Homo sapiens: one gene and its partner. The protein of the gene in region 2 purifies or fractionates together with the protein of the main gene of each other region. This does not show direct contact. Each region holds a gene or a part of one and is shown on either strand. Other genes may lie near its edges.

Region 1 (3,828 bases), on a different chromosome or scaffold from region 2:
TGTGTGTGTTTGGGTAAGTTAATAGAGGGAGTTTAAATTCATTGTATGTTTGCTTCACTGAACTGCATATTCTTCTGGTTTTCAGGCCTCTACTTCTAAACACTAATGGAGCCCAAAAGAAGAACCTGTTTCAGCACATAGTCAAAGAACCAACTGATAATCATCATCATAAAGTAATTTTTTAGTTAGGGTCTATTTTATATTTATTGTCTCAGACTAAATTTTATTATGGCAGTGTTTCATGCATTCAAAGAAGTGTGGTGAATAACAATTCAAGTGTTCATCCCACAGCTTTGTTAAATTGTGACATTTTTTATTATTTGCTTTAGATTATTGTAAGAAATAAATCATCACAAATCTAGTTGTTCCAGTTGCCTGTTTCTAAGTTTTTCTCTCTCCCCGTCTCTTGTCTCCCCTCTTTACTCTTCCTCGCTTACCCTAGAGGTAATCACTATCTTGAATTAGTATCTATCATTCTCATGGCCATTTTGTATATGTGAATCCAGGAGCAGTACTTGGTATTATTTTGCATATATCTAAACTTCATATAAATAATATCATTTTGTGCATATCATTTTATAGTGTGGCTTTTTTTTAACTTGATGTTGCTTTTGAGATTTATTAAACATAGCGATTTAGTTTATTCATTTCTTTTTTTTTTTTTTTTTTTTTTTTTTTTTGAGATGGGATTTCACTCTGTCACCCAGCCTGGAGTGCAGTGGTATGATCTTGGCTCACTGCAGCCTCCACCTCCTGGGCCCAGGCAATTCTCCTGCCTCAGTCTCCTGAGTAGCTGGGACTATAGGTGTGTGCCACCACACTTGGATAATTTTTGTATATTTTGTAGTGATGGATTTTCATCATGTCACCTTTGCTGGTCTCGAACTCCCAGACTCAAGCCATCTGCCTGCCTCAGCCTCCCAAAGTTTTGGGATTACAGGCATGAGCCACTGCACCTGGCTTACTCATTTCAATATTATATAATAATTGAATATTTTGAAAATGTAATTATTATAATTTAATGTGATTATATATTCTTACATTGGTTATTCTATTTTCAACTTTTTTTTATTAATGTTCACCAACTAGAATGCTTTTTACTCCAGCAATTTAAATTTTTACCTTCATTTTGTCACAGGCTTTCTGGATAATTTGTCAGATTTCTATCCAGTGGCAAATTAGTCCAGTCCAAAGTCCAGATCTTTTTTATTATCTTTTTGTTACTACTTTCAAACTTCAGAATTCAAAATAGTTCTTTAGATTTATTATTAAAGTAATAAGATTTTTGTTCTTGGACAATCAAACTTAACCTCACATCTGATTTCTTTTCCCTCTACTGTTAGAAAATAATCAAGCATACCTATTTTGTTTTTAGGATTGAAGGCTCATGTAAGTGGATGAAGATTTTTATATTTTTAACTGGGTTTATATATTTTAAAGTACTTCACATCCTTTGCCTCTTTATTATCTAGTATTGGAATTTATAGTTTTTTGCATTTTAATAATGACTTTAGTTTGCTTTACAGGATTGAACTTAGTTTGATTAATACAGCTGTAGCCTGAATATATCTGTAGCTTAAGTTTAAAAAAAAATCATTGCTAAAAAGCCAAGCTAACATGTAACTGAGAGAGGTGAAGTGCGTTTTTTTCTCTTAGTGAAGGTATTTAATGAATAAGAATAAAACACATTTCAAAACAGAGCATCTTGAGCTGAAACAATATCCCTATCAGCATGGTGGCTGTCTGGTCGTGCTTGAAGTTTCTAGTGAAGTCCTAAGACTTTTTTACTCTTTAGGCATAAAAAATACTTTAAAATTTGAAGATCTTTCCATAGAAACATTTTTAGGGGTGTCATCTTCAGGGTCCCTTACAGTAAAAGAAGTAGTAAAGTGTAGAATGCAGTTAATATACCTCATACCTCTGTGAATTGGTGCTGCTAGTACCAATTATTATGTAAGTTCCGTAAGAGCAGAGAACACACCTGTTTTGCATACCCCGAGATTCAGTAAATAGTAGTTGCCTAGTTATTTTGTAGATGATATCTTGTTTGGTAGTCAATGATTTTGATTTTTAGATATATTTTTCTCTCTGAATTTTTAGGTTCCACACAGTAGGACTGAAGGTTTAAAGCCAAGGGAGAGGATTTCAGATGACATCATTATTTATGATGTTACTGATGATAATGCAGATGAAGAAAATATCCCAGTTATTCCAGAAACTAATGAGGATGTTATATCTGATCCCTCCAAGTAAGGAGTTTGTGAGATAAAATGTATGAAAATATTGATTACTTTTCTTATTACAGAGTAAAATTCAAAACTACTTTGTTCTTTGAAAAATAATAATCTTTCTCACATTTGGATTATTAAACTTGATAATTAAGCTAAATTATTCAACCAGATAAAACCTCACCTCCTCTTCCTCTCAAAGGAGGTATACTGAAAACTAATTGATTTTTAATTTTTATTTTGGAGTTAAGCACTTCTCATTCAATCTTTATGGTCTTCTATACTATGAAGTACCAATATTGTGATTAAGCTGCTCGCTCAAGAAATTTAAGCCTTTCAGTATGTGGTATGGGGAGAGAGTTTCCATTTAGAATGAATGGATAGTATGAACTTATTAAATTTGAAAATGTAATAGGTTCCTTCTTTTATTGCTGATTTAGCTGTAGCCAGTACCCTGATATTGTCATCGTTGAAGATGACAATGAAGATGAGTATGCACCTGTCATTCAGAGTGGAGAGCAGAATGAACCAGCCAGAGAATCCCTAAGTTCAGGCAGTGATGGCAGCAGCCCTCTCATGTCTAGTGCTGTCCAGCTAAATGGCTCATCCAGTCTGACCTCAGAAGATCCAGTGACCATGATGGATTCCATTTTGAATGATAACATCAATCTTTTGGGAAAGTGAGTGCTTATCTAGATGTTGTCTAAAATTATTTGCTTTCTTTGTTCACTTCACATGTTCTGTTTCTCTTTGAGTAATCTTCCTTTCAGATGATGAACCCACATAGTCCACCTTTCTCTGTTTTGGTCAGTGTTGAGTTCTGTAATGAATGGGATTTAATCATCCCAAGAATAGTCTTGGTATTTTCCTGGTAGTTTCTCAGATTCCTTTGATGATATACTTCCTTTGAGTGTACATACAGTGTTTGTGATTATATATATTTGTGTATCCAAACTACAGAATAATGTAATTTCTAGTAAGGTACTTATAACAAAGAAAACTTAATAGTAATAATCAGTAATGAGATTAAACATTTTATATAGTATAGAGGAAAAAGGTAAATCAGACTGTTCTGCAGGGTGTGTTTTTCTGTAAATACTAAAGTTTTCTGTAAAGGCTATGAATTTTCAGTTAACCAGATTTTCAAGAATTCCTACTCTAGAATAAGATCTCTTAAGATTAAGAACCGGTAAGGATGCAGCAGCTGCTAGAAATATCTTGCCTAGCCAAGTTGTAATGGTGATTTTTAAACATAAAAACAAGGATATCTAATATTTGATTAAAAAAATTTTTTTTTCCTTAGGGTTGAGCTGTTGGATTATCTTGACAGTATTGACTGCAGTTTAGAGGACTTCCAGGCCATGCTATCAGGAAGACAATTTAGCATAGACCCAGATCTCCTGGTTGATGTAGGTACTTTGGGTAATCTTTGCTATACTGGTAGTTTGTGTGTTTATGTATATTATTTAAAAACCAGTACGTCATTTTGTTTTGTATTCTACAGGTTGTTTTTGCATTTCTTTTTTAAATTAATAATTTTGTTTATCAGAAAGAATGAAAAAATAGGTTTGGGACATTGAAGGAGTATGATTACCACCTG
Region 2 (3,828 bases):
ATGATGTGATATGACATCTTTGTTGGGGGGATTAAACGCTGTCCAGGAAAGGCTAAAAAGAAGGAAGCAGCATGTAAGTTAAGCTTTAGGAGACTGCACCTTTCAAAAAGGGAAAATAAAGTAAGGCAGGCGTCTCAAACTGATTGAAATTATTGTGTACAATCAGTGTCTCCATTTCCTCATTTCACATTTATTTCTCAACCCACACCCAACTCACGACTAAAATTGCTCTCAATTAAATGCAATTGCGAGCTCTCAATCCTTATCCCACTTGATCTACTGGTAACATCCCGCATGAGTGCTCGCTTTCTCCTCCCTGGTTTCCATAAAATTACTTTCTCTCTCTCTCTCTCTCTCTCTCTCTCTCTCTCTCTCTCTCTCTCTGTCTCTCTCCTGTAGTCTTTCATCTCTGTCTTTTTTTTGCAGGATTGTTTTCCATTTCCCTTTAAATATTGGTGCTTTCCAGGATTCTAAGATGTTTTACTTTTCTTTTAATTTTCTACCTTTAATTTTTTCCTCTATGTTTTCTTTCTTTATTCCCTGTTTTTACTTCTCCAGAGATAATATGCTTTATTCCTATGCTGTCAGCTGAAATAGATTCACTATGTCTCTTAAATTTATATTTCTAGTACCAAATTCTCTCTTGAGGCACTAATTTCTATATGCACTTCTACTTAACATCATCACATGGATGAGCCAAAGACATTATTTTTTTTTCCTCCAAATTCAACTATTTATCTTGCCTGTCCAAAATACTCCTTGTCCCGACTTGGTGAATGACATCACATCTCTCTTATTATCCATGAAAGAGGCCTGGAATTCATCATACAATTTTTCTCTTTCATCTCACCTCTAATTTCTATCGTTCACCAAATCCTACAAAATCTACCTTTAAAATAATTTCGTTTTTTTTTCTTTTCTGTCTCCAACAAGGAGGCCCTAATTGATTCTTCCCTCTGTCACTGCAGTAAGGCTGCGTGTGTCCAGTTAATCTGTATCCATCCTTTTTTTCAATCTAATATGCCTCTTATTTTCCACCAGAGAGATCTACCAAAATGGCAAATCTGATTATTTCAGTAACCTATATTAACTCCTTCAAGGACCCCCCACTATCTTCCTGATAAAATGCAAACCCTTTAGTATGGTAGGCATGCAAGCTTCTTTGTGTATAATCTGTGTCCTTTAACCCTGCTGGGGCAACAAAAATACCTGTGGTTTCCCCAAGTCACCATGTTGTTTCAAGCCACAATCTGGTGTCCTGCCTGTAACACTTCATTTCTTCCCCTCTTTATCTAGCTCATTCTGTTCTGTCATTTCAATGCTGAATCATATGCCCTTTAGGGTAACCTCCCTAGAAAATTTCCCTGATGTCCGGGCTGGTTGTCCGGCTAGGCACCCTCATGGCATTTCTCTATTGGAATACATACCACAGGGCTGTATAATGTTTGTTGGTTTGTCTGTCTTTTCCATTCCCCATGAAATCAGGATCTGTAATCTGTCACAATATCCCCTGACTAGGACATAATAGGCACTTAGTACATATTTATTCAGTTTTAAAATATGAGCAAAGCTATAGGATGGAAATTTGTTAGATGTGTTATGGGAGAATGATTAATACATTTTAAGGATGAAGGAAGGTAAGATTTGAAATGTTGAATTCTGAACCACCGGACAAATAAAGGGCAGGGAGTGAGACTAGGGTTGCAGCGAGACATGAAAACCAAAGAAAAGCAGCTCTACAATGGAACCATTGATGTAAAGGGACACACACACACACACACACACACACACACACACTTCAATTTTGAGGCAGAAGAATATAGACTGAGGTTGACATGCAAGGGCACAGGGTTAAAAGTGAAGAATGGACTCCAAATCAGGAGTCAATTTTTCTGGTGTAACTACAGCTTCAGAACTAAAATTAAGGAGCTGTTGAGGTTTTCTACCTGACTTGGATAGGAAAGCTAAACTAGGATTATACCATGAAACATCTTAAATACCAGGCTGAAGAGGGGTTCTAAGTCTTGCAGTCCTTGGACCATTACTGAATAATTATGAACAGAGGGGGAGAAATTAAAGATTAGAAAACAAGTCTAACCATGTTCTATAACACTGAAGTTAGCACATAGAAACTTAATGTGACTGAATATTAGGAGAATAAATATTTTATTAATGATAATAAAAACTTAAACTAGAGGTGTGGCAGCGATACTTAGAGGAAGAAAAATGTAGCATCCATGGGAAAAACTGGAGGTAGTCTGAGACTTGATAAGAGAGAGGAAAGACATAAATTTTACTGAAATAGTTAAACATAAATTTTAGTGAAATGGAATAGTTAAATATTTCACTGAACCAGGTACTTTACTTCTTTGAGAAATAACTCCTTGAGTTTAGATTATCTGTGTTATTCTGGTACAAAGAATACCAATTTATATGCTATTTTTAAAAAATAAACAGGGACTTTAATTTTTAACAAAGACAGAATCTTATACCTCAGGTATCCACTGGTACCCTGGAGGTACCAGGCAGCTGTGCAGAGCTGCAGGCATAGACTAGGAAGTGCTGCCAGCTTCAATGAGGTATATGTTGCCTTGCCAACTTGTATTAGGGACATTTTTCTGTATCCTGTGATCCACTCTTTCTTCCCTGAAACATTTTTTTTCTTAAAAACAAAACCAAAACTACATTCTAATCAGACAAAACTGTTTTTGAAAAGCCAATTCAAGAAAATTACTGTTAGAAGTATTGAGGAACAGATACTGATAACATTTTTTCTACTGATTATTCTCCAATGTTCTATCTTCATGATTCACTTTTAATATAAAATTTTAAAGATCTCAAACCTCTCTATATTGCTGGTTTTCTAAATGTATAAGGGAAGCCAGAAACATATGTTAATATGATTTTCTGTGTTTTGATACTAGAATTGAAAACAAGTTAGTATCATTATGAAAACACAAAATCTTATCACTTGGTTTTATAACACTCATTATATGAAGCTCTGGAAGATCACATTCACATGGAAAAGCACACAGTTGTCAAGAAATGATGCTTTTAATTAAGTAAAAGATCTATACCTGATTGGGATGATTACTTATGTTCTTGTCATTCTCTACTAGACACGACATCCTTGAGGATAGGGATATGACTTATTTGTCTATGTATCTTCAGGCTTAGTGCAATGCTTGGCATATAACAATAAAAATTTTTTTGAATGAATGACATTTAAAAAAATATAACACATAGAACTTACCATGTACCAGACACCTACCCAAATGCTTTACAAATATTAACTCATTTAATTCTTATTCTACAAAGAAAATTAAGGCACCGAGAAGTTACATTATGTGCCCAAATCACACAGATAGAAAGTTATGGAATCAGAAGTCAAACTCAAGCAGAGCTGTGCCAGAATTTGTACTCTTAACTTATATTATCTCTAAATAAATGCTGCTGTTAAGTTGTAAAAAATACAAATATGTAAATAAATATATAATGTAATCCATCATTGAACTTAAAAAGACCTGGGTTCAAATATATTTTTAATTTACTTGGTTCGTGGCTTTGAGCGAGTTCATTAATCTAATGGGTCCTCAATTTCCTCATACATAAAATAATGATAATAGCTTGTAACTCACAAGGCTACTCTTAGCTTAAAACATATTTTTTGTAAAAGTACTAGATTATCATTGGCACCGGGTATATGGTAGTTAGTGTGCCAAGGGGAATGATGCTATTTTCCTCTTTCTCCTCTTTCAAAAGGGTACGTATTTGTACTTTACACAGTATACAGGTCTTAAGCAAAAGGAGATGAAATTGTATGTTTCA

The links.
Region 1: the proteins of CALCR (region 2) and HSF2 purify together in Homo sapiens (affinity purification with a luminescence readout; one large-scale study listed by IntAct). This does not show direct contact.

Annotation. Positions count from the first base shown.
Region 1 is NC_000006.12:122,420,050-122,423,877, forward strand, and holds part of HSF2 (heat shock factor protein 2), read left to right. Parts: intron 1-85; coding exon 86-173; coding exon of another isoform or gene 174-185; exon of another isoform or gene 186-361; intron 362-2,100; coding exon 2,101-2,249; intron 2,250-2,668; coding exon 2,669-2,908; intron 2,909-3,531; coding exon 3,532-3,637; intron 3,638-3,828. UniProt on the Homo sapiens protein: DNA-binding protein that specifically binds heat shock promoter elements (HSE) and activates transcription. In higher eukaryotes, HSF is unable to bind to the HSE unless the cells are heat shocked.
Region 2 is NC_000007.14:93,568,173-93,572,000, forward strand, and holds part of CALCR (calcitonin receptor isoform 2 precursor), read right to left. Parts: intron 1-3,828. UniProt on the Homo sapiens protein: G protein-coupled receptor activated by ligand peptides amylin (IAPP), calcitonin (CT/CALCA) and calcitonin gene-related peptide type 1 (CGRP1/CALCA).